Homo sapiens: one gene and its partners. The protein of the gene in region 1 purifies or fractionates together with the protein of each later gene. This does not show direct contact. Each region holds a gene or a part of one and is shown on either strand. Other genes may lie near its edges.

Region 1 (3,500 bases):
CACCGGGGACTCCCTGCGTCAGCCCATGCCTGTTTGGGGCCTTTGTGTCCAGTTCCTGGCCGCTGGCCCCCCTGGTTCTTTACGCCTTGGCCTGAGTGTCGGTGTCGCACAGGCCTCCCCAGCTGTCCACCAGCCTGTCCTGTGTAGCCTATGACCCACTTAGTTGTTTTTTTACCCTCTTGATGATTGTTCCTTGCTTGTGGGGCTCTGTGGGGCCCACCCCTGGGACCCCTACCTGTGGACAGGTGTGGACGCCAAGCTGTACCACCTGGAGGGGTCTGGGAGCCTCAGTCCACACCTGCCCTGCCAGCATTTCCTGAGCCATCCCAGCTACAGCCCCCATCTCTGGGGCCCTGGGTCCTGTAACTTGGGGATGACAATTCCCGTGCCTATATCAGCCTGGCCCTGGCAGGCCCATGCATCCCTGGCCTTCCAGCACCTCTGGGGCCCACCTTGGAACGGGAGATGAAGAGGAAGCAGCCGGCCAGCAGCAGCCCCTGTAGGGTGGCCTGGAAGTCACTGAACTTGACTCCCTCCAGGTAGAGGACGCTCTGGCTGTAGGCCAGGATGAGGGCATTGAGCGCCAGGATCTTGAACATCTGTAGCGTGGTCACCAGCGTGCAGCGGCCCTGCTTGATCACGTGGCAGACTGCAGGGTGGTGGGGAGGCAGGTGTGGGTGTGGGTAGGGGTGCCAAGGGGGGAATGAAGGGAGGGGGAGCGGGGGCAGGCAACTCACTGCACTGGATGGATGAGAGCTTGGAGGTGAAGGGTGCTGCGATGCTGGCATCCCCCAGTTTCACAATGGGCGTACTCTCGTCCTCGAGGTCTCGCAGCACCTGGCTCAGGCGGTCCTGCAGGGTAGACAGCAGGCTGTCAGCCCTGGCCAGGATGGGGTGCAGCACCTCCCCTCTTGGGACTCACCCTCTGGGAGGTTGGCTGCTCCTCGGAGGGAGGGAGCCCCGACCGCTGCTTGGCTGTCCTGGAGGTGGCTCTGATGCCACTGTTGCTCAGGGTTGGGCTGTCCCGGGGCCGCCGTCGCCGCTCGACAACCCGCTCAGGGGCATTGGCCAAGAGCGCCACACCTGGGGGGCAGGAGGGTGTCAGACCCGGAGGAGCAGGCTCCACGGAGGGGAAGATTGCTGGCTTCAGAGCCACTGGTCCTGAAGTCCCCCAGCTGGCTCCCGTGAGGACAGTTCCCAGACTTCCCCATTTCACCTGACACCCTAAGGAGACCTCAGAGAGTGCCCGTGTTGCTTTCTACAAACTACTTTAAGAAAACAAACCACCAACAATAAACCCCCACAACAAATGCAATGAAAAAACACACAACACGAGATAGGTCAAAACTAAACTGATTTTGGCCGAGCGCAGTGGCTCACACCTGTTATCTCAGCACTTTGGAAGGCTGAGGTGGGCGGATCACCTGAGGTCAGGAGTTTGAGACCAGCCTGGCTGATACGGCGAAACCCCGTCTCTACTAAAAATACAAAAATTAGCCAGGGGTGGTGGCATGTGCCTGTAATTCCAGCTACTCGGGAGGCTGAGGCAGGAGAATCGCTTGAACCCGGGAGGCGGAGGTTGCAGTGAGATGAGATCACACCACCGCACTCCAGCCTGGGCGACAGAGCGAGACAGTCTCAAAATAAAACAAAACAAAACAACCTAAACTGATTTCAAAAGAAATAGCCAAGGAGCATGATTCTAGGAGGCAAACAACACTCAATAAATGCTTTAGTAGATAAAAGCAGATAAATATTGGAAAAGCAAAAAAACCAACGTAAGATTGATCTTTAAAATTCAATTTAACACCTGAGTTCTTGCAAAAAAAAAAAAAGAAAAAAGAAAAAAAGGCCAGGTGAGGTGGCTCACACCTGTAATCCCAGCACTTTGGGAGGCCAACACAGGCGCATCATCTGAAGTCAGGAGTTGGAGACCAGCCTGGCCAACATGGTGAAACCCCATCTCTACTAAAAATACAAAAATTAGATGGGCATGGTGGCTGGCGCCTGTAATCCTAGCTACTTGGGAGGCTGAAGAAGGAGAATTGCTTGAACCCGGGAAGTAGAGGTTGCAGTGAGCTGAGACCGTGCTATTGCACTCCAGCCTGGGCAACAAGAGAGAAACTGTCTCAAAAAAAAAAAAAAAAAAAAAAGGCAGGGTTCGGTGGGATGCAGTGGTTCACACCTGTAATCCTAGCACTTTGGGAGGCCAAGGCGGGTGGATCACTTGAGGTCAGGAATTGGAGACCATCCTGGCCAACATGGTGAAACCCCATCTCTACTAAAAATACAAAAATTAGCCAGGCATGGTGGCACGTGCCTGTAATCCCAGCTATTTGGGAGGCTGAGGCAGGAGAATCGCTTGAACCCGGGAGATGGAGGTTGCAGTGAGCCCAGATCGTGCCATTGTACTCCAGCCTGGGTGACAGAGCAAGGCTCCGTCAAAAAAAAAAAAGACAGGGTCTTGCACTGTCACTTAGGTTAGAGTGGATCACACCACTGCCTTGAACTCCCAGACTCAAGTGATCCTCCCGCCTCAGCCTCCCAAAGCACTGGGATTCCAGGCAGGAGCCACAGTGCTCAGCCATCTGTGTGCTTTTGACAGAGATCTGGGGCTATGAACCATCTTCATGGCTTCAGCTCTGGGTTTTCTGAGTCACTCTCCCAACTTGTTGCCTCTCTCCTGGCCTCTGGCCTCCGCCCTGCTCTGTTCCTGGGATATTCGCATCCCTTCCTGCCCTCAAAGCCCCTGACCTTGCCACCCCCTCCCATCCTCACAGGAATTAGTGCCCCCGTGGCTGTCACCAAGGGCCAGGTCTGTCTTTCTAGCTCAGTGACATGTCCTCAACACCTCGTCCACAAACGAAATACCCTAGCCCACAGCACTCACCCACGTCAGCATGCTTCAGGGCGCCCACGTCGTTGGTGCCATCCCCACACATGAGGGTCACGTAGCCCAGCTCCTTCAGGCTGGTGATGACAAACTCCTGTATGGGCGGAGACAGGCTGAGCAGGGGCTGCGTGCCTACCGCTGTGCCCCTGACCCCTAGGGCTGTGCACATACCTTCTGCTTGGGAGCCACACGGGCGAACACCTGCACATGGGGGATGAGGCGGAGCAGCTGCTGGGGGTCGGTGGCCTGCAGGTGGGCCAAGCCGTCGCCTGTGAGGCACAGTGCGTACTCCAGGGCCAGTGCCTTTGGGGAGCCCCGGGCCAGGGGCAGCACGATGCTGCCGTCAATGGAGCGCCACTCGCACTGCCGGCCTGCGGGCAGCACCTAGGGTTAGGGCTGGGGGCTTGGCTGACCGGGCTCAGAAGCACCCTCCCTCCACTCGGACCCCAGCACCAGCCAGTCTCTCCTCTCTGGAGCCCGCACCTCCCTACCCACCCAGGTGACCCCCAGCCCTTCTCTGGGGACTCCACAAAGAATGTCCCTCAGGTGCACAGGGTGGAACCAAGAGCCTGGGGCCTGAGCTACTTGCCTGAGAGCCCGGGACACA
Region 2 (2,719 bases), about 32 Mb from region 1:
TTCATTTTCAGATTGTCTGTGGCTGCTTTGTTGCTACAATGGCGGAATTAAATAGTTGCAATAGAGACCACATTGCTTGCAAAACTGAACATGTTTACTATCTGGCCCTTTGCTAATACTGGTTGACCATCTCTGACTTAGAATGTCACATTGAGAAGCTTCAAATTATTCCTGTGGGTTGGGGATCTAGGGAACTATTTTCACTATGGTCAGCTCTGAGTTTTAGAAAATTCCCCAAATGCTAATATGTGATTTTCCCTGTAGCAGGACATAAAGAAAGCAGAAATCCGAGTAGGGGACAGGTGAGATGAAAAGAGAAGATTCAGGAGTGGAGAGAGATGATGTTGGAGGGTAAGTCAGGGAAGACATATATGGTGGGGTTTTGAGCAGCAAGTGAGATGGACATGTTGCTGATATAGTTCCAGAGATCAAATATCACTAATGACTTCTGTTCAAGGGGGAAGGAACCAGTATGCACCGAACTCTCACTGCACCAGGACTGGTGTTTTCCATGTGTACCTTTATTTAATGCTCACAGCATCCCTATGAGATAGGACTTCTTATACCTACTTCACAGAGAAGAAAATGGAGACATGGAAGGTTAAGGAGCTTGTGTGACATCATACACTTAGCAAATGAAAGAGCACAGATTTGATTCCACGACTCTCTGCTTGCAAAGTCTAAGATGATGTTAATATAGCAGGAAACTCACATAATGTCTATAAACCCATTGCCTGTGGGGTGTTAAATCTCCAAGAATCAGCCTTTGGTCCCCGACCTGTAGAGGATGTGGATCTTCTAGCTGAGCCTGATGCTCTTGTGGGTTCCTCACTGGGTCCTGACCTCTGAGTATTCGGTGGAGGTGTCCTTGGAAGGATTCATCCCATGAAAGTTGAGGGAAGCATAATGCAGCTCCTCATCCATCTCCACAGTAGGGGCGGCACCTGAACAGCTTGAGGTTTCAGTGGGGCCATGTAACTTGGACTTCTTCTGGTGTTTCTTATGGAGAGGAAAGAAGGGGGTTAGAGCAGGGCAGTGAGGAGGGGGACCAGGAGAAGGCAAAGAGGGTCAATGAAGTAAATTTGACTCTGACAGAACATTTATTCACTCTTTCATTCTTTCATCAAATGTTAATTAATTAAGGCTCTACTTATTCATTATCTAACACATGTAGCACGTATTGATTGATTCGCAATTCTCTTGAATACTCACAGAGACTAATGTGGAAAAATTCTGGGCAGCTACACTGACATCATCTTTGGCATCTATTATTTTAATCCATTTTACAGACCAGGAAACTAGGTCTCAGAGAGCTTAGGTAATTTCCAAAGTCACACATCTGTTGACCCTGAACTCGGTCCCAGGTCTCTGGGACCTCCTATGTGCTGGGCACTGGATCCTCAGGAGGGAGCAGAGCAGAGCAGGGGCCCTGTGATTTCCAGTACTGCAGGGGATGAAGACAGAAACAGACTGGTAATTGCAAATTGTGACAGTGTGCAGATGAACAGGAGAGAGTAGAATGATGGAGGTCTAATAAAACCCAGGCTTTTCCTTGTGGAGCTCATGGTGTGGTAGGGGAAGCTATGGGAATGCAGTTAGTTCAAGTGGTGCAAAGCCCTACACAAACAGGGAACATGGTATCATAAGAGACACAGGAGCAGATGCTGGAGAAATGGCAAGTCTACAGGGTACAACCATTTGCTGGTGCAGGCCCATTTCTTGGTTCTAGATTTGGGGCAGTGTTTCTCAAAAGAGTCCTTCAACTCACAGTTTCTGCCTCTTCTCCTCCCATTCTCTCTTGAACTCTCTCTAGTCAAGAGATCTTCCTCCAGCAGAAAAATCAGATCTGCTTTGCTGTCATACCACTTAGCTACATTCAAATAGCCATTTCTCAGATTCCATCTTACCAGACTTACCAGCATTTGAAACAAATGACCAACCTCTCCTCCATGAAGCCCCATCTTCCCTTGGCCACCAACACTACAGCCTGCAATTTCCTGGTCATTGGCTCCTATTCATTCTCAGCTTTCTCACCATTTACACCTCATCTCCCTAACATTAAATGCTGGAGGGTTCCAGGGCTGTGTCTGTGGACCCCTTCTCTTCTTTGTAGATTCATCGATTATTGGATGTTGATAGGGAAGCTCCCAACCTCTGTGTCTCCCACGTGGAGCCCTCTTCTGAGCTCCAGACACTTGCCTGCTACTTGTCATCTCCACATGGATGTCTCAGAGGCACCTCAAACTTACGGTAACCAAAATAATGTTTGATATACACTTGAAAATAGACTTCTCCTTCAAGGATGGCAATTTTAATCATTGGCAATTTGATTTTTTAAGTTTGAATTCTGAGTTAACCACATGAACATCATCATTGGCATCTATAGACATCTATGACATCTATGGGGTCTTCTTGGACATCCATGACATCTATGATATCTGTGGACCCACCTATGACATCTGAGACACTTATCGAGCAGAGCCCGTGAGCTATCTTTGCTCATGCCTTGCATGCACTCCATCACTCCACTTGCAAATACTGTTGACTCCACCTTCAAGATGTATCCGGAACCCAATTTCTCCACATCAGATTCATTATTCTTACTTGGGACTAAGTCTGAGTCAGTCATCTCTTGGCTTGATTATCTGTGTATCTTCTATTCTGGTATCTTCTCTTCTATACTACATACTAGAGTTTCTCACAGAGCAGCCAGAGTGAC
Region 3 (3,500 bases), on another chromosome or scaffold:
AGTCATTCCAAACGTGAAATATTAATTTGCTAATATATTAAAAAGTGAACTGGTGGTTTTGTACTTTTTGTAGTACATCAATATAAAAACTTTTGAGAATTCCCAGAACTAAGGCAAAAATGGCATCAGATTAATTTGGAGCAACTTTTGAGAAATGCTTTTAAGACATACCCACAGACTGTCCCTGTGGCTATAAAACTGTTTGACTCAATAATACCTGTGAATATACTGAGAAGGGGCACTTACTAATTTTCCTGTGGGTGTTTCCAGGCATGGCAGTATAGCATTTCCCATCCTCTGCAGTTGTTTTCCCCTTTGAGAGCTGAGAATTGAAGGAGGTATAGCACATCAACAGCAGCTCAGAACCTCAGTCACGGAACCCCTCATATCAAACAAAAAAAAAAGGTTGGGAAACAAAAATGAAGGTCAGAAATTAAATCAAATAGCAACACTAGAGAAATAGCTCAAAAAAAAAAACGCCAAAAGATGAGGTTTCCAAGTAAAAAATTATCAAAGCACAAGTGTAAAAAGTAAAGTAGAGATTCCTCTTCAAAGAGACTTTACTCCCCATATAATTAGGAATAGTAACTTCTCTTAGAAGCAAAATTTATTCAAGAACCTGTGCTAACATGCTTAGATATCTGCTAGCCATAATAAAGAAATCAACTGTTCTTAGCTCCCACAGTTTAGCCTAAATATTTGCCCTGGCATGCTTATACTTGTCAAAGCAAGCATGAGGTCATAGCCTGTTCCTCTTCCTTATATGAAGGTGTTTTTACCTTTCTCAGCATTCCACAAGTTAGTTCCTCCTTCCTTTGTTCTCCTCTGCCTTTGCCTCTTTTAAAAAGTTCTAAGTCGCTAGCCAATCAGCACAAATACAGAATGTGAGGTCCCGTTCCAGCCAATGGAAACCGGACACAGCAGTAAGGTGGATGCGTCAGGTTATAAATGACCCTGTCTCCTTTGTTCGGTGTACTCTCACGGCAAAACCGCTGGTGAGTGTACCCTTTCTGCAGAAAGTAAAAATGGCCTTGCTGAGGAAATTAAATGTACGTCCAAGTGCTGCTTCTTTATGGCACCAGAGAACAAGCATTTCTAACACAAGGGAAAAAAAATCTCCCTACAGGTCATCTTCCTTGCTCATGCTCATCTAAAAGGGATGTGTGGCACCCTATGGGCATTCTTACAGACTCAACTCAGACTGCCTGCAGAATTCCTGGGCGAGAAAGAACTCATCTTATTTAAGCTTACTCTAGACAGGAGGGCAAAGTGAGTCTTCTGCCTCTAATTCACAGTACAGGGGCCAGGGGCCTGCAAAGGCCTGCCTGGAGGTGGAACTCAACTGGGGGTCTGCTTTAAAGAACCTACACCCATGTCTCCCCAGAGCTAGGAAATATCAGGCTTAATTTCAGGAGGGACAGTTCTGTCTCAGGAGAATTATTGGAGATAATATTAAAAACAGCATCTCAAATTCCTGTGGAGAAACAAGCAGGATAAAGTGGTGTCATTATTTGGCCTTACAATGGCTATTTGGAAATCACTGTGCCAATCCCAATAATAAAAGCTCTTCTTAGAAAATCTTTATTCCTTTTCGGCCTGTAAAGATGTTAATTTTTTTTTTTTTTTTTTTTTTTTTGGCAGGGGAGTGCATTGAATTGTATCACTCACTGGATTAAGAACCAAAAGATCCATGTTCAAGTCCTAGTTCTGCCTTGTTAGTTGTGAATTTTGGGGCAAAACACTTAAACATTGAGTAAACATTTCTTATGTGAAACTGAAATAATGGCTATCCTAAGTACCTCATGAAGAGGAGGCAGGATTTAAAGAGATGATGGATTTGAAATAATTTTATGAACTATAAGAAGTTTTAATGTAGACAATGATTTTTATTGCCATATTAGATTTTCATTGATGTAATATGATTAGGATGATTCTACTTACCTTAAATAGAATGTACAGTATATATAAAAAAATCCCAAAACCGTAGATTGGAATAATCTGCCCCATCAGACCTCTTCCACTACCTCCTCCTCCAGCACCTCCACCTGATCCTTTGGCCTTTGCAAATGCCTCGGCAAGGTGAGACCTCTGGAAACGAGCCCCAGGAGTCTGGCCATCTGAGGGTGCCTGGTGATGATGCATCATAGGTGGAAATCGGCCCAATTTTCCTGAGAAAATAATAATCACTTTTTATCTCTTCTACTATTTTAAAGATGGCTATCATGAAAACACCAAATCATTAAGGTATAAAAGAGGCCAACACAAACAAGTAGAAGAAAAAAATGGCAACTTAATTAAAAGGATACAGAGGTATCACACATATCCTAAATATGATGTGATCATCTCTAGCTGTTCACCAAACCCATTTTCTCTTCCCTCTGGGTCCTTAGCTGGACCACATTTTTCAGACTCCCATACAGTTAAATGTGGCCATATAAACTGAGTTCCAACCAAGGAATGTGACTAGGACTGTGCTAGCTCAAGGCCTGGTCTATAAAATCTCCCTTGTTATTCAACTCCGTGATCATTTCTTTTCTGCAGCATGGATGCTAACACCCACGGGGACCTTGGAAGCCACGGGTAGAAACAGCAAAGCCTCCATCAACCTGATTCCTAAATAATTATGTAGTGCAGAGCCCTCCACTGCTGCCACCTCACTAACTTAGAGTCATCTGGACCTGTCTGTAAGAGTGAGAAATCAACTTCTATTGTGTTAGGGTCATTATACACTGTGGAATCTATTTGTTACAGCAGTTAGCCACCCCTAACTAATACAGATAAGAAAATACAGACTAACAGCGGATCTCTCGGCAGAAACCCTACAAGCCAGAAGAGAGTGGGGGCCAATATTCAACATTCTTAAAGAAAAGAATTTTCAACCCAGAATTTCATATCCAGCCAAACTAAGCTTCATAAGTGAAGGAGAAATAAAATACTTTACAGACAAGCAAATGCTGAGAGATTTTGTCACCACCAGGCCTGCCCTAAAAGAGCTCCTGAAGGAAGCGCTAAACATGGAAAGGAACAACCGGTACCAGCCGCTGCAAAATCATGCCAAAATGTAAAGACCATCGAGACTAGGAAGAAACTGCATCAACTAACGAGCAAAATCACCAGCTAACATCATAATGACAGGATCAAATTCACACATAACAATACTAACTTTAAATGTAAATGGACTAAATGCTCCAATTAAAATACACAGACTGGCAAATTGGATAAAGTCAAGACCCAACAGTGTGCTGTATTCAGGAAACCCATCTCACGTGCAGAGACACACATAGGCTCAAAATAAAAGGATGGAGGAAGATCTACCAAGCAAATGGAAAATAAAAAAAGGCAGGGGTTGCAGTCCTAGTTTCTGATAAAACAGACTTTAAACCAACAAGATCAAAAGAGACAAAGAAGGCCATTACATAATGGTAAAGGATCAATTCAACAAGAGGAGCTAACTATCCTAAATATATATGCACCCAATACAGGAGCACCCAGATTCATAA
Region 4 (3,500 bases), on another chromosome or scaffold:
AACACTATCCTTTGAGACTACAAAACATTCCCACAAACTTAGGAAAAGATGGGTTATTTTGTAGTCATGGTAAGTAGACAATAGAACCAGTTTTAAACCTGTTCAATTGATCAACAACAATCTCCCTCAGTGTCTTAGTGCATTTGGGCTGCCATAAGAAAATACCATAGACTAGGTAGCTTATAAACAACAAGAATTTATTTTGTACAGTTCTGGGAGCAAAAAATCCAAGATCAAGTTTAGGGGTTTGGTAGGACTCACTTTCTGGTTCATAGATGGTGCCTTCTCACTGTGTTTTCACGTGGCTGAAGGAGCTGACTAGCTCTCTGGGTCTCTCTCTTTTTTTTTTTTTTTTTTTTTTTGAGATGGAGTCTCACTCTGTCGCATAGGCTGGAGTGCAGTGGCGCAATCTTGGCTCACTGCAACCTCTGCCTCCCAAGTTCAAGCAATTCTCCTGCCTCAGCCTCCCAATTAGCTGGGACTACAGGCACACGCCACCATGCCCAGCTAATTTTTGTATTTTTAGTAGAGATGGGGTTTCGCCATATTGGCCAGGCTGCTCTCAAACTCATGATCCGCCCGCCTTGGCCTTCCAAAGTGCTGGGATTACAGGTGTGAGCCACTGAGCCTAGCCTCTGGGTCTCTTTTATGGGGGCACTAATCCCATTCCTGAGGACTCCACCGTCATGACATAAAGCCTCACCTAATGCCATCACTTTGGGGGCTGAAATTTCAACATATGGATTTGGGGGGAAAACAAACCATACCATAACACTCAGCAAACATGTTTTTGGAAATTAACCCATCCAGTCAGTCCTTTGTTTCTGAAAGTCAATCAGGTGAGTGGCTCTGTCCCTGTTTGGCTGACTTTCACACTAGTGTGAGTTGACTTTTGGCCAATCAGGGTCTGGCACTCTGATGATGGCTTTCAAAAATGTATTCACTTAGGCAGTTGTTGATTGAACATGTTTAAAACTAGTTCTGGTGGCTACTTGTTATCAAGGCTACTGTAAAAACAGTGTTTTCCTAAATTTGGGGATCCTTTTTACTGTTAGTTTCCTGCAAGTCTGGAATATATCAGATGTCACAGTACAAGAATATGAATTATCTGTTGTGATGTAACAAATTACCCAAGAAGTAAAGGTTTAAAACAATAAAAAAGTTATTATCTCACACAATTATGTGCGTCAATAAACTGGGAGTGCCTTAGCTGGGTGGTGAGTAGTCTTCTCTACCTGCTTCCTGCCTATAGAATTTGGAGGTCCAAAAGTGTTTTTTTGTTTTTATGGTTTCTGAACCTTTTAGTATTCTGTGAATAGAATTTTCTCAACATTTCTGTGGGATTCCTATAAATAGTTTCTCTGAGTCAGAAGTGTGAGAGTGGCTTAGCTGGTTTTGTTTCAAGATCTCTAAAGATGTCAGGGCTGCAGTCATCTGAAGGCTTGAATGAGGCTAGATCTGCTTCCAAGATGGTTCACTCATGTAATGCTGACTCAGTTTCTCTCCACATGGGCCTCTCCATGGGCCATCTGAGTGTCCTTACAACAGTGGCTGGCCTTCCCCAGCATGAGTGGTCTGAAAACAGGTATTTTCTTTGACCACCCCAACTTGACTCTTGATCCCCATCTCTTCCTCATCTTTGATTTCCTCCTTCTCCAATAGCTCCAACTTCCTTCTACTGGCTCTTTCCCCTTTGCCTTCAAACTCAGAGTTCCTTATCTAGAAAAAAATAACTTTACCTTGCCACTTTACTCTCTCTGATAATCTCATTTTTCTCCAACCAAGCTTTTCTATCAAATAGTTTATAGCCACTCATATCCAGTTCATCCTGCAATCTTCTGCCCTTTCTCCCCACTCCCAACCTCTGTACACACACAGACACACACACATGCACGCACGCACACGCGCAAGTCACTTGCAAAGATGAGAAATAGGCCAGGAAATTAGCATTTATTGAGCCTTATGTGTCAGGCTGTAAGGTAAACTCTTTATAGATGTTCTCTTACTTGCATCTCTCAACAAGCTTGACAGGTAGGTCTTATTTTCCACACTTGACCTATTAGGTTCAATGCGTTAAATATAGCAGTGAGAGAACTTGGGTTTAATTCTATACTTGCATAACTCTAAAGTCCAGGATTTCCCCACCAAGATTTAGAAGAAGTCAAGGCCAGGTGTGGTGGCTCATGCCCGTAATCCCAGCATTTTGGAAGGGCAAGATGGGCGGATCACTTGAGGTCAGGAATTCAAGACCAGCCTGGCCAACATGGTGAAACCCTGTCTCTACTAAAAATACAAGTAGCTTGGCGTGGTTGTGCACGCCTGTAATCCCAGCTACTCAGGAGGCTGAGGCAGGAGAATCGCTTGAACCTGGGAGGTGGAGGTTGCAGTGAGCTGAGATCGTGCCACTGCATCCAGTCTGGGCGAGAGAGTGAGACTCTGTCTCAAAAATAAAATCAGTAAAATAAAATAAAATGAAAATTAAAAATAGAAGTAGTCAAGTGGTAGTAGCTGCAGTGAACAGCTGATGGTTTTTGGTTTTTTGGTTCTGTTGTTTGCTGTCCAAAACCCTATTTCTCCTTCATTTGATGACAGATCCACTCATTTTGGTGAGAAACAGTCTTGAAAGTCCCTGATGTGATCACAGTGACCACTTCACCATTCTTATTCTCCTTGTCACACCAAAGCTGTTGATTCCACTAATTCCCAAATCTTTCTTGAACCTTCCCTCACCTCCTTTAACTTTCTACTCTCATTCTCTTTTACCTCTCAAACCTTCCTTCTGTTTCTTTTGCTCCCTTATCTGCTTTCTCCAACCCATAATTGCCAGTGTTTTCTAGGCCCGATTCTTAATTCATTGTCCTCTATTCTCAACAGCACACTCTGTTCCTCTTGTTAAAATATACAGCCTTCCTGCACACAGCTGTAGGACCACTTCTATGCCAAGAACGCCCAAATGTAGATCTCAAGATTGTATCTCCAATAGCCTGGCGAATATTTTCTAATTGAATTATTTAGCAAAGCATGTTCAAACCAAACTCATCTTTATTTACAGCAGAGAACCTCTCAGTGTTACCGAGAAAAAAGGAGAAGGGGGAAAGGAAAGGAGAAAGGGATAAAGAAGGAAACACCACAACATTTATGGAATTTACCGATTGTGTAATTTGGTAGGTTCTGTGTTGATTATACAGTACATGCATTATCTCACTGAATTACACATTCAAAAAATATTTACGTATTCATTTATTTTTAGAGATGGGGTCTTTCTATGTTGCCCAGGCTTGACTTGAACTCCTAGGCTCAAGCAATCCTCTCACCTCAGCCTCCTGAGTAGCTGGGACTACAGTCATGTGCAACTGTGCCCAGCTTCAGTAAATATTTATTAAGCAACACTATGTGCTATATATTGCATAGTTGTTCTAGGTACAACAATTTTTGTCTGTTTGTTTGTTTGTTTTGAGACGGAGTCTCGCTCTGTCGCCCAAGCTGGAGTGTAGTGGCGT
Region 5 (3,120 bases), on another chromosome or scaffold:
GAGGGGAAGTTTGAGTGCAAAGGGAACATGCCTTAGTAATATATTTCAGATTGGCAGCCATGGCAGAAGAATGTATATAATTTTCTAAAAGCTGGAGTAGGGGCAGTAAGCAGCATGGAAATGGTTGTGCACATATGAAAGTACAGAAGGTTTTTTAAACTTGGACAAGACACTTTATCACTGAGATCAAACAATTTTTTCCTGAATGGCACCAGCCCGGGCAAGTGGGGTTCATTCCTTCTGGGTATATACAGGAAAAAATGAGCAATAACGATGGGGTTTTAAGGGCTGCCTGCCAGGCTGCCAAATTTGTTGAAAGGTTTCTCTCGGTTATGGCATCTTTAGACTTTCGGCACCCCTTGCAATGGATAATGGTGGCCTTTGGTGGTAGTTTATCCACCCCCAGCAGCTTATGTATAAGTTTGCCATTTCTTATGGGAGTTCCTTTTGTAGTTAGGAAACCCTGTTCCTGCCAGATGAAGGCATGAGACTGTAGGACATGGTATGCATATTTGGAATGGGTGTAAATGTTGACCCTCTTTCCCTTTGCTAGGGTGAGGGCCCTGGTTAGGGCAACTAGCTTAGGCTGTTGAGAGGTAGCATGGGGTGGCAGAGCATTGGATTCTAGGAGTTTATTTTCAGCAATGATGGAATAGCCAGCTGCTGGACATGGCTCCCTAAAAGAGCTTCCATTAACTAACCGTGTATGTGTTCCCTGCAAAGGGGCATGTGAAATGTGTTGGAAGGAGGAGGAGAGGGAGTCTAAGAGGTCCAGACAGGAGTGAGAGAGCCTAGAATCGGAAGTGTTTACAGGGAGGAGGGTGGCTGGGTTGAGAGTTTTATATCTCTGGAAGGGGATTAGAGGGCTACCTAGGAATAAGGCATGTACCTGTTATAAGCAGGATGGTAGGAGGGATAGAAGGGATTGATGGTTTATGAGGTCCTGTAGGTAATGGGAAGATGCAATAGTAATGTGTTGGTAAAGAGGGAGTTTCCGTGCCTCTAAGGCCAGCGATGTGGCCACAGCCAAGATTTTTAGTCAGAGTGACCAGCCTTGGTCACACAAAACAACAGAGTCCAGTTGTTTTGAGAGAAGTGCAGTGGCTTGTGTGGCGTTGCCGTATGTTTGGCAGAGTAGTCCAAGGGCAAGGCCCTGGTCAGAATGTACATACAAAGTAACGGGCTTGGTGAGGTTGGGCAGTCCCTGTGCCAGGGCCATTAAAAGGGCATTTTTAAGTTTTTAAGTGGGAGTTGATGGGGCAAGCTGGGTTTAGGGGTTTTAGGATGGGCCCATGTGAGGCCCTGTTTAGTGGCTTGGCCAGCAAGTCAAAATTGGGAACTGACAGCCAGAAGTAACCCACAAGGCCCGAGAAGGAGAGAAGGTACTTTTTTGTGTGAGGAAAGGGCATGTCCCAAATTAGCTCCTTTCATTGGGTTGGGATGGCTCGAGAATTAGGGGTTAGGACAAACCCAAGGTAAGTAACTTTGGTTTGGGCTACCTGAAATATTGTGGGCTAGGCCCAAACTTTGGTTTGGGCTACCTGAGATTTCCTCTATTATGGAGGAAGTTTAAAACCTAAGTGGTGTGTTGGATGGACAGGTTAAGGAAGGGGCTACAGAGAAGGAGTTTGACATGTTGCAGGAGGGTGCTAGCAGCAAGGGAAAGTTCACCTAGGTCCTTGATGAGGGCAAGTCTGAATAGGTGGGGGCTATCCTGGAACCCCTGTAAGAGTACAGTCCACTCTAGTTGGGTGCACATGTGAGTATTAGGACTTGACCAAGTTAAAGCAAAAAGACTTCTGTAAGCCGGATTTAAGGGAATGGTGAAATAGGCATCTTTCAGTTCCAATACAGAGGAGTGTGTAGTAGATTTAGGAATATGGGAGAGTAGAGCATATTGGTTGAGGACCACTAGATGTATTGGTACCACTGCCTGGTCAACAACTTGGAGATCCTGGACAAAGGGGTAAGTCCCGTCTGTCTTTTGGAAAGCCAGAATAGGGGTGTTCTGGGGAGAGTTAACAGGCTTGAGAATATGAGCTTGTTAAAGTTTACAAATAATAGGTTTGAGGCCCCTAAGCACGGCTGGATTAAGGGGATATTGAGACTGAAAAAAGAAAATGGAGGAGTTTTGAAAGGTTATTTTAACTGGGATGTGATGTGTGGCTATTGTGGGTTTAGAAACATTCCAAGCTTTAGAATTAACAGAAGGTAACAGGGTGGATAATGAGGATGAGTAGGGGGAGAGGGAAGCGTTTGGGTGTCGGAGTAAAATAAAAGGGGTAGAATTGTAGGAGCCGCATTGCATGGAGGCCTGGAATTTACTTAATATGTCCCACCCCAAGATAGGGGTAGGGGACTGAGGGATAACCAGGAAACAGTGGGTGAAGGGGGCTGTTGAATAGGTTGCATAATAAAGGACGAGTCTGTGCCTAGAGGGGATTTTATTGATTCTCACAATAGAGATCGAAGAACAGAAAAAGGGTCTAGAATATTCTGGTAAAACCGAGTAACTAGTTGTCGTATTGAGTATCCAATAGGAAAGACATGGACTTACTAGAGACTGACAGAATTACCCTGGGTTCCGAGGTGGTGATGGCAGTAGGGGTGGTGGACTCTAGGCCCCACCTGTCTTCAGGTACAGGTGGTGAAGCTAGATGAAGAGTTTCACTGAGCACAGTCTGACTTCCAGTGTTGCTTGATATCACAGATGGGGCAAGGCTTCCAGAGTGTCACGGGATTAGGCCAGGCTTTTGCTCAGTGTCCCTGTTGGATGCACTTATAACAGGCTCCTGGAGTTGACTGTTGCCAAGTTGAGGAATTCTGTATGCCTTGGGAACCCTGTTGAGTGGCAGCTATCAGCATTTGATATTTAGCCTGGCCCTTTTTTAGGTTTGGGTTTTTTAGTTCTTCCTCTCTAATCTTATAGACCTTAAAGGCCACTTTGATTAAGTCTCTTTGGAGGTTTGAGGGCCATCCTCCACTTTTTAAAGTTTTTTTTCAAATGTCTGGGGCTGACTGGGAGATAAAGTGTAAATGGAGGTAGATTTTGCCCTTAATGGTATTAGGGCTTAAGGTGGCATATTTAGTTGTGACCTTTGAAAAGGCGGGAGAGGAAAA
Region 6 (3,500 bases), on another chromosome or scaffold:
CCTTTTACAACATCACAGGATGGCTGAGTCCTTCAAATCACCTTTGATCTGTCACCTTGTAGCCAACACTCAAGCCAACCCAAGAAAGGGTCTCCCTTAACCTTTGGAGTTAGCAAGGAAACAAAATGTGCCCTTCTGTGTTGTGGGTAGAGAAGGAGCTCTTAAAAAAAAAAAAAAAAAAAGAGAGAAGGAGCTCTTAAGACCCTTTCCCTGCCCCTGCAAAAATTGGCTTTAGAGTGGAGTCTTGTTGGTTCAAGATCCCCTAAGATTCCCCAGAGAGTTTTAGAGTAGTTTACATTTAGTGTCTTGCTATGAAACGTCTATTTTTCACAAAAAGACAGTGATTCAATAGCCAAGACTTTACAGCCAGACGGTCGTGGATTCAAATCCCAGCTCTGAGGCCGGGCGCGGTGGCTAATGCCTGTAATCCCAGCACTTTGGGAGGCCTAGGCAGGCGGATCACCTGACATCAGGAGTTTGAGACCAGCCTGGACAACATGGTGAAACCCCGTCTCTACTAAAAATACAAAACTTAGCCAGGCGTGGTAACACATGCCTGTAATCCTAGCTAGTGGGGAGGCTGAGGCAGGAGAATCACTTAAACCCAGGAGGCAAAGACTGGAGTACTCGAGTTGAGATCATGCCACTGCACGCCAACCTGGGCAACAGAGCGAGACTCCATCTCAAAAAAAAAAAAAAAAAAAAAATTCCCAGCTCTGCCACTAAGGGCTGAGTAATCCTGTAGAGTTATCAGGAAAACTAAGTGAGAGAAAATATAAAATGCTTAGTACAGGGCCTGGTACATAATAAATGTTCAATCAATCGTAGCTATTATTGCTATTGCTCTAGTTAACTTGATTTTCTGATAACTGAGAGCCACACAAAATAAATCCTGTTTCTAAAATTTCAGTCTATGGGTTCTCTCTTTTTCTCTCTTTAAAAACAATGATTAGGCCAGGTGCGGTGGCTCACGCCTGTAGTCCCAGCACTTTGGGAGGCCAAGGCAGGCAGATCACGAGGTCAGGAGTTCAAGACCAGCCTGGCCAACATGGTGAAACCCCATCTCTACTAAAAATACAAAAATTAGCCAGGTGTGGTGGCGGGCACCTATAGTCCCAGCTATTTGGGAGGCTGAGGCAGGACAATCGCTTGAACCCAGGAGGCAGAGGTTGCAGTGAGCCAAGGTTGTGCCATTGTACTCCAGCCTGGGCGACAAGAGCAAAACTCCATCTCAAAAATAAATAATAAATTAATAAATAAATAATAATTATAGGCCAGGCTCACACCTATAATCCCAGCACTTTGGGAAGCTGAGATGGGAGGATCACTTGAGACCAGGAGTTAGGGACCAGCCTAATAATATTGAGACCCCATTTATACAAAACACACACACACACACACACACACACACACACACACATATAATTATAAGCATTTTTAAAACAATGAATTTAAGGAAGTTAAATCTTCCATTTATTCAATATACATTTACAAATTGATTCAATACACATTACTCCTGCAATAACAGGAGTCCTATATGCAAGATATTGTGCATTAAGCATTGTGGGCACATACAGGTCCTTAAAAAGCACTGTTTGATTGCAAAGAGAGAAGGAGCAAATACAAGATGCTGAGCATCAGTTGTGAATACACAAGCAAGAAACTGAGTCAAATAAATGTGGGCTCCTGGATATGCCCTCAAGTAATTTTTTTTTTTTTTTTTTTTTTGAGACAAGGCCTTGCCCTGTCACCTAGGATGGAGTGCAGGGGCATGATCACAGCTCAATGCAGCCTCAACCTACTGGGCTCAAGTGATCCTCCTGCCTCAGCCTCCCAAGTAGCTGGAACTACAGGTTTGCAGCACCATGCCTGGCCAAATTTTAAAAAATATTTTTTGTAGAGACAGGGTGTCACTATGTGGCCCAGGCTAGTCTCAAACTCCTGGTCTCAAGCATTCCTTCCACCTTGGCCTCCTAAAGTGCTGGGATTACAGGCATGAGACACTGTGCCCGGCCTCCTCAAAGAATTTTTAAGTCATTGCTGCAAGCTTGCCTTCTAGTGGTTTTTCTTTTATGAGGGAATTTCGCTCTTGTTGCCCAGGCTGGTGTGCAGTGGCGCGACCTCAGCTCACTGCAACCTCCACCTCCTGGATTCAAGCGATTCTCCTGTCTCAGCCTCCTGAGTAGCTGAGACTACACAGGCACACACCACCATACCTGGCTAATTTTTTGTATTTTTAGTAGAGATGGGGTTTCACCATGTTGACCAGGCTGGTCTCAAACCCCTGACAGGTGATCCACCCTACTTAGCCTCCCAAAGTGCTGGGATTACAGACGTGAGTCACTGCGCCCAGCCAGTTTTTCTTTTATTCTGAGAAGGTAGCAGGGACAGTAAAATTGAGGTTTATTAAGGTATGGCTTTATTTATAGTTAAATACATAAAACTGGCTGGGCACCATGGCTCATGCCTGTAATCCCAGCACTTTGGGAGGCCAAGTTGGGCGGATCACCTGAGGTCAGGAGTTCAAGACCAGCCTGACCAACATGGAGAAACCCTGTCTCTACTAAAAATACAAAATTAGGCCAGGTGCCATGGCTCACGCCTGCAATCTCAGCACTTTGGGAGGCCGAGGCAGGTGGATCACCTGAGGTCAGGAGTTCAAGATCAGCCTGGCCAATGTGGTGAAACTCCGTCTCTACTAAAAATAAAAAAATTAGCCGGGTGTGGTGGCTCATGCCTGTAATCCCAGCTACTCGGAAGGCTGAGGCAGGAGAATCGCTTGAACCCGGGAGGCGGAGGTTGAGGTGAGCCAGGATCACACCCTTGCACTCCAGCCTGGGCAACAAGAGCGAAATTCTGTCTAAAAAAAAAAAAAAAAAACCTCTTCACTTTGAATATTCCTGACTGGTGTCTTGCCATATTTAAAGAGATAAATTTAAATACTCTTTCCCATTAGGATTGCAATGGAAGCAAGAAGAATGGTATTCTAGGGAGATGAAGAATCTTTGAACCTTCCACAGGGTAGACAGTTGTGAAATTGAAGAATAAGAGGGACAAAATGCTAATGTTTCTTCTTTGTGGTTTTCAAGCTCTTACTATATGCCAGGCACTTTACACACATCATGTCAGTCCTTCATTACAGCAGGCCTATGAGGTTAGAACTGTCATCATCAACATGTTACAGCCCAGGAATCTGAAGCTAAGGGAACTTAAGGCTTTTTACCCCAAGGACAAGGTGGGCATGAAGGAAGTCTAAAGCCATGATTTCCCCTCCAAGTTGAGTACAACATAGCTCACAAAAAAAGTTACTTACTGTTAGATTTATATCAGGGAGGCTCCCCAGTGTCTGTGTCTCTGCTATAAAAAGAGAGAGAGAGAGAGAGAGAGGAAAAATAGCCAATAGTATAGTTAAGAACGTTTTCTTTTATCTAAGTTTTTAAAAAATCTTAATGATGCCTATAATCCTATTTGAAATGAATTCTACTCCGTACTTGTCACAA
Region 7 (3,500 bases), on another chromosome or scaffold:
TATCCCCCACCACGATGTTAGTAGATACCTTCTGGGGAGCCTGAACTTCAACACTCATCAAGCAGCGATGAAGTTCTCTACCTGCTTCCCTGCTGGGGTGCTGTCATAGGAAGTCTAGTGGAAAGTCAGGACTTTCACAACTGCCCAACAGTAATGAGGCCACCTCCTCCCAACATGGTGTCAGTAGAAGCCAACTGGGAAGCAGAAATGACATACCCATACCCCTCTCATTTAGGGAAGTATCAATAGAATCCTAGTGGGGAGTCAGAATTCCAACCTCTGCATAGCCCTGCACCTTGGGTGTCAAGAGAAGCCAAGTGGGGAACCAGAAAGAACATTAACCCTAATCTGGCTGGGCATAGTGGCTCACACCTGTAATCCCAGCACTTTGGGAGGCCGAGGCGGATGGATCACAAGGTCAGGAGATCGAGACCATCTTGGCCAACATGGTGAAACCCCGTCTCTACTAAAACACAAAAAATTAGCCAGGCCTGATGGTGCCTGCCTGTAATCTCAGCTACTTGGGAGGCTGAAGCAGGGGAATCGCTTGATCCCAGGCGACGGAGGTTGCAGTGAGTTGAGATCGCACCATTGCACTCCGGCTTGGGCAACAAGAGCGAAACTCCACCTCAAATATAACATAACATAAAATAAAATAACAACATAACATAAAATAAAATAACAAAATAAAATAACATAAAATAACAACATAAAATAAAATAACAAAATAAAATAACATAAAATAACAAAATAAAATAAAATAACATAACGTAACAAAATAACATAACATAAAATAAAATAACAAAACAACATAAAATAACAAAATAAAATAAAATAACAACATAAAACATAACAAAATAATATAACATAAAATAACATAAAAAATAAAAATAACATAAAATAAAATAACATAAAATAAATAAAATAAAATAATTTTTTTTTTTTTGAGACGGAGTCTCGCTTTTCACCCAGGCTGGAGTGCAGTGGCGCGATCTGGGCTCACTGCAAGCTCTACCTCCCGGGTTCACACCATTCTCCCGCCTCAGCCTCTGGAGTAGCTGGGACTACAGGCACACGCTGCCATGCCCAGCTAATTTTTTGTATTTTTAGTAGAGACGGGGTTTCACCGTGTTAGCCAGGATGGTCTTGATCTCCTGACCTCGTGATCCGCCCGCCTCGGCCTCCCAAAGTGCTGGGATTACAGGCGTGAGCCACTGTGCCTGGCCTATAAAAATTTTTACAAAGAACATTAACCCCAATCTGGCAGTAACAAGGCAGTGCTCCTACCTTCCACTGCTGGAGTGACGTCAGTGACTCAAACTAAAACAGAAAAGTCTCATATCACCTAAAATGTCCTGGTTTCAATAAAAAATTACTCTGAATCATACTAAGAACCAGTAAGACTTCAAACTCAAAAAGAGATAATCAATATATGCCAACAGTAAGGTAACAGAAATGTTAAAATTATTTGACAACGATTTTAAAGGAGCCATAAAAAAATGCAATTAAATTTTCAAAAGTAAACAAATATGCTTGAAAAAAAATGAGTAACAGACCAGGCGCGGTGGCACTTTGGGAGGCCAAGGCAGGCAGATCATGAGGTCAGGAGTTCGCGACCAGCCTGACCAACATGACGAAACCCCATCTCTACTAAAAATACAAAAATTAGCTGGGCATGGTGGCACACGCCTGTAGTCCCAGCTACCCAGGAGGTTGAGACAGAAGAATCACTTGAACCTGGGAGACAGGGGTTGCAGTGAGCCAAGATCGCACCACTGCACTCCAGCCTGGGCGACACAGCAAGATTCTCCATCTCAAAAAAAAAAAAAAAATTTAAAAAAAATTTAATAAGGAAAAAAAGAAAAAAATGAAAACAGACTCAGCAAGGCAAGAGAAGATATAAAGAAGAATCAAATAAAAATTTTAGAAGTGAAAAATATAATAATGCTTGAGGTCAACAGTAAAATAGAGAACAGAGAAAAAAGACTGGTGAACTAGAAGATAAAACAACATAAATTACCTAATTTAAATAACAAGAACAGAATGGGAAAAAAACCAAAACCAAAAACCTAAAGCTATATTTGTGTCACTGGAATATCTCAAGGACAGGAGAAAGACAGTGTGGCTGAAAAAGTACTTAAAGAAATAATGAGCAGGCACAGTGGCTCATGCTTATAATCCCAGTACTTTGGGAGGATGAGACAAGAGGATTACCCGAGGCCAGGAGTTTGAGACCAGCCTGGGCAACATTGCAAGACTCCATCCCAACAACAAAAAATTTTAATTAGTCGGGCATGGTGGTACATACCTGTAGTCCTAGCTAGCTAGTCGGGAGGCTGAGGTCGAAGGGTCGCTTGAGCCCAGGAGTTTGAGATTATAGTAAGCTATGATTGCACTCTAGCTTGGGTGACAGAGTAAGACCCTGACTGGGAAAAAACAAAAAACAAAAAACAAAAAACTGAGTGTGGTGGCTCATTCCTGTAATTGGGAGGCTGAGGTGGGAGGACTGCTTTGAGCCCAGGGGTTCAAGACCAGCCTGCACAACATAGAAAGACATCATCTCCATTACAAATTTTTAAAAATTAGTCAGATGTTGGTGGCATGCACCTGTGATCTCAGCTACTTAGGAGGCTGAGGCAGGAGGACTGCTTGAGTCCAGGAGTTCAAGGCTGCAGTGAGCTATGATCATGCCACTACACTCCAGCCTGGGAAACAGAATCAGACCTTGTCTCAAAAAATAATTTTTTTTAATTAAAAAAAAAGATAGGCTGGATGTGGTGGCTCACGCCTATAATCCTAGCACTTTGGGAGGCCAAGGCAGGAGGACTCCTTGAGGCCAGGGGTTCAAGACCAACCTGGCCAACATAGTGCGACTCCATCTCTATTAAAAAAAAAAAAAAGATCACTCAGAAAAATTGGAAGCAGTGGTTTACATGGAGTTAAGGGAATTTTATCTGATGGCTTCAATTTTCTTCCTAAGATAAATGGTAGAAAGTCTGAGAAGAGCAAAGAACATCTGAAACTACTGTTAGGAACACTAGTTTACTGGGGAAATACTCCAGAACTCCTGGGCAGTGCCGAGGAGCCCGCCTTTATGTTACTGACTTCCCTCCTTGTCATTCAGGTCTCAGTCTAGTATCACCACTTTAGAAGCTTTCTCTGATCATCCAAGTTAAAACATCTCCCTTCCTTTATTATTCTTCTTAAGAGAACAGTGTTCTTTTTCCCTCAGAGAACCTGGCACAAGCTGTAATTCTATATGTTTACTTCCTAATTGTGTCTCCCACTGGACTATACGCTCCATGAAAGCAAGATTCATGTTGCATTCATTGTCTTATTTAAATATTCACAGTAATCCCTGTGAGGGAGTTATAATTATCAACACTTTACAGATGAGGAATCTTAGACTTGCAGAGTAACTTATCCAGGGTCAAAGAGCAAATTAATGTTGGAACCAGGACTCAGACCTAGGACCGATTTATAGAACTCATGCTCTTTTC

What was found.
Region 2: the proteins of ATP13A1 (region 1) and CD33 purify together in Homo sapiens (co-immunoprecipitation; one large-scale study listed by IntAct). This does not show direct contact.
Region 3: the proteins of ATP13A1 (region 1) and RIC3 purify together in Homo sapiens (co-immunoprecipitation; one large-scale study listed by IntAct). This does not show direct contact.
Region 4: the proteins of ATP13A1 (region 1) and TMEM169 purify together in Homo sapiens (co-immunoprecipitation; one large-scale study listed by IntAct). This does not show direct contact.
Region 5: the proteins of ATP13A1 (region 1) and SPANXN3 purify together in Homo sapiens (co-immunoprecipitation; one large-scale study listed by IntAct). This does not show direct contact.
Region 6: the proteins of ATP13A1 (region 1) and HAVCR2 purify together in Homo sapiens (co-immunoprecipitation; one large-scale study listed by IntAct). This does not show direct contact.
Region 7: the proteins of ATP13A1 (region 1) and ZYG11B purify together in Homo sapiens (affinity purification with mass spectrometry; 2 studies listed by BioGRID and IntAct, with this or other methods). This does not show direct contact.

What each region holds. Positions count from the first base shown.
Region 1 is NC_000019.10:19,646,677-19,650,176, forward strand, and holds part of ATP13A1 (endoplasmic reticulum transmembrane helix translocase), read right to left. Parts: intron 3,265-3,500; coding exon 3,065-3,264; intron 2,988-3,064; coding exon 2,891-2,987; intron 1,084-2,890; coding exon 923-1,083; intron 853-922; coding exon 738-852; intron 650-737; coding exon 453-649; intron 1-452. UniProt on the Homo sapiens protein: Endoplasmic reticulum translocase required to remove mitochondrial transmembrane proteins mistargeted to the endoplasmic reticulum.
Region 2 is NC_000019.10:51,237,798-51,240,516, reverse strand, and holds the end of CD33 (myeloid cell surface antigen CD33 isoform 1 precursor), read right to left. Parts: intron 1,000-2,719; coding exon 829-999; 3' UTR 501-828; downstream 1-500. UniProt on the Homo sapiens protein: Sialic-acid-binding immunoglobulin-like lectin (Siglec) that plays a role in mediating cell-cell interactions and in maintaining immune cells in a resting state.
Region 3 is NC_000011.10:8,138,026-8,141,525, forward strand, and holds part of RIC3 (protein RIC-3 isoform a precursor), read right to left. Parts: intron 2,169-3,500; coding exon 1,942-2,168; intron 323-1,941; coding exon 247-322; intron 1-246. UniProt on the Homo sapiens protein: Molecular chaperone which facilitates proper subunit assembly and surface trafficking of alpha-7 (CHRNA7) and alpha-8 (CHRNA8) nicotinic acetylcholine receptors.
Region 4 is NC_000002.12:216,088,419-216,091,918, reverse strand, and holds part of TMEM169 (transmembrane protein 169), read right to left. Parts: intron 1-3,500.
Region 5 is NC_000023.11:143,511,356-143,514,475, reverse strand, and holds part of SPANXN3 (sperm protein associated with the nucleus on the X chromosome N3), read left to right. Parts: intron 1-3,120.
Region 6 is NC_000005.10:157,095,545-157,099,044, forward strand, and holds part of HAVCR2 (hepatitis A virus cellular receptor 2 precursor), read right to left. Parts: intron 3,358-3,500; coding exon 3,314-3,357; intron 1-3,313. UniProt on the Homo sapiens protein: Cell surface receptor implicated in modulating innate and adaptive immune responses. Generally accepted to have an inhibiting function.
Region 7 is NC_000001.11:52,764,453-52,767,952, reverse strand, and holds part of ZYG11B (protein zyg-11 homolog B), read right to left. Parts: intron 1-3,500. UniProt on the Homo sapiens protein: Serves as substrate adapter subunit in the E3 ubiquitin ligase complex ZYG11B-CUL2-Elongin BC. Acts to target substrates bearing N-terminal degrons for proteasomal degradation with the first four residues of substrates being the key recognition elements.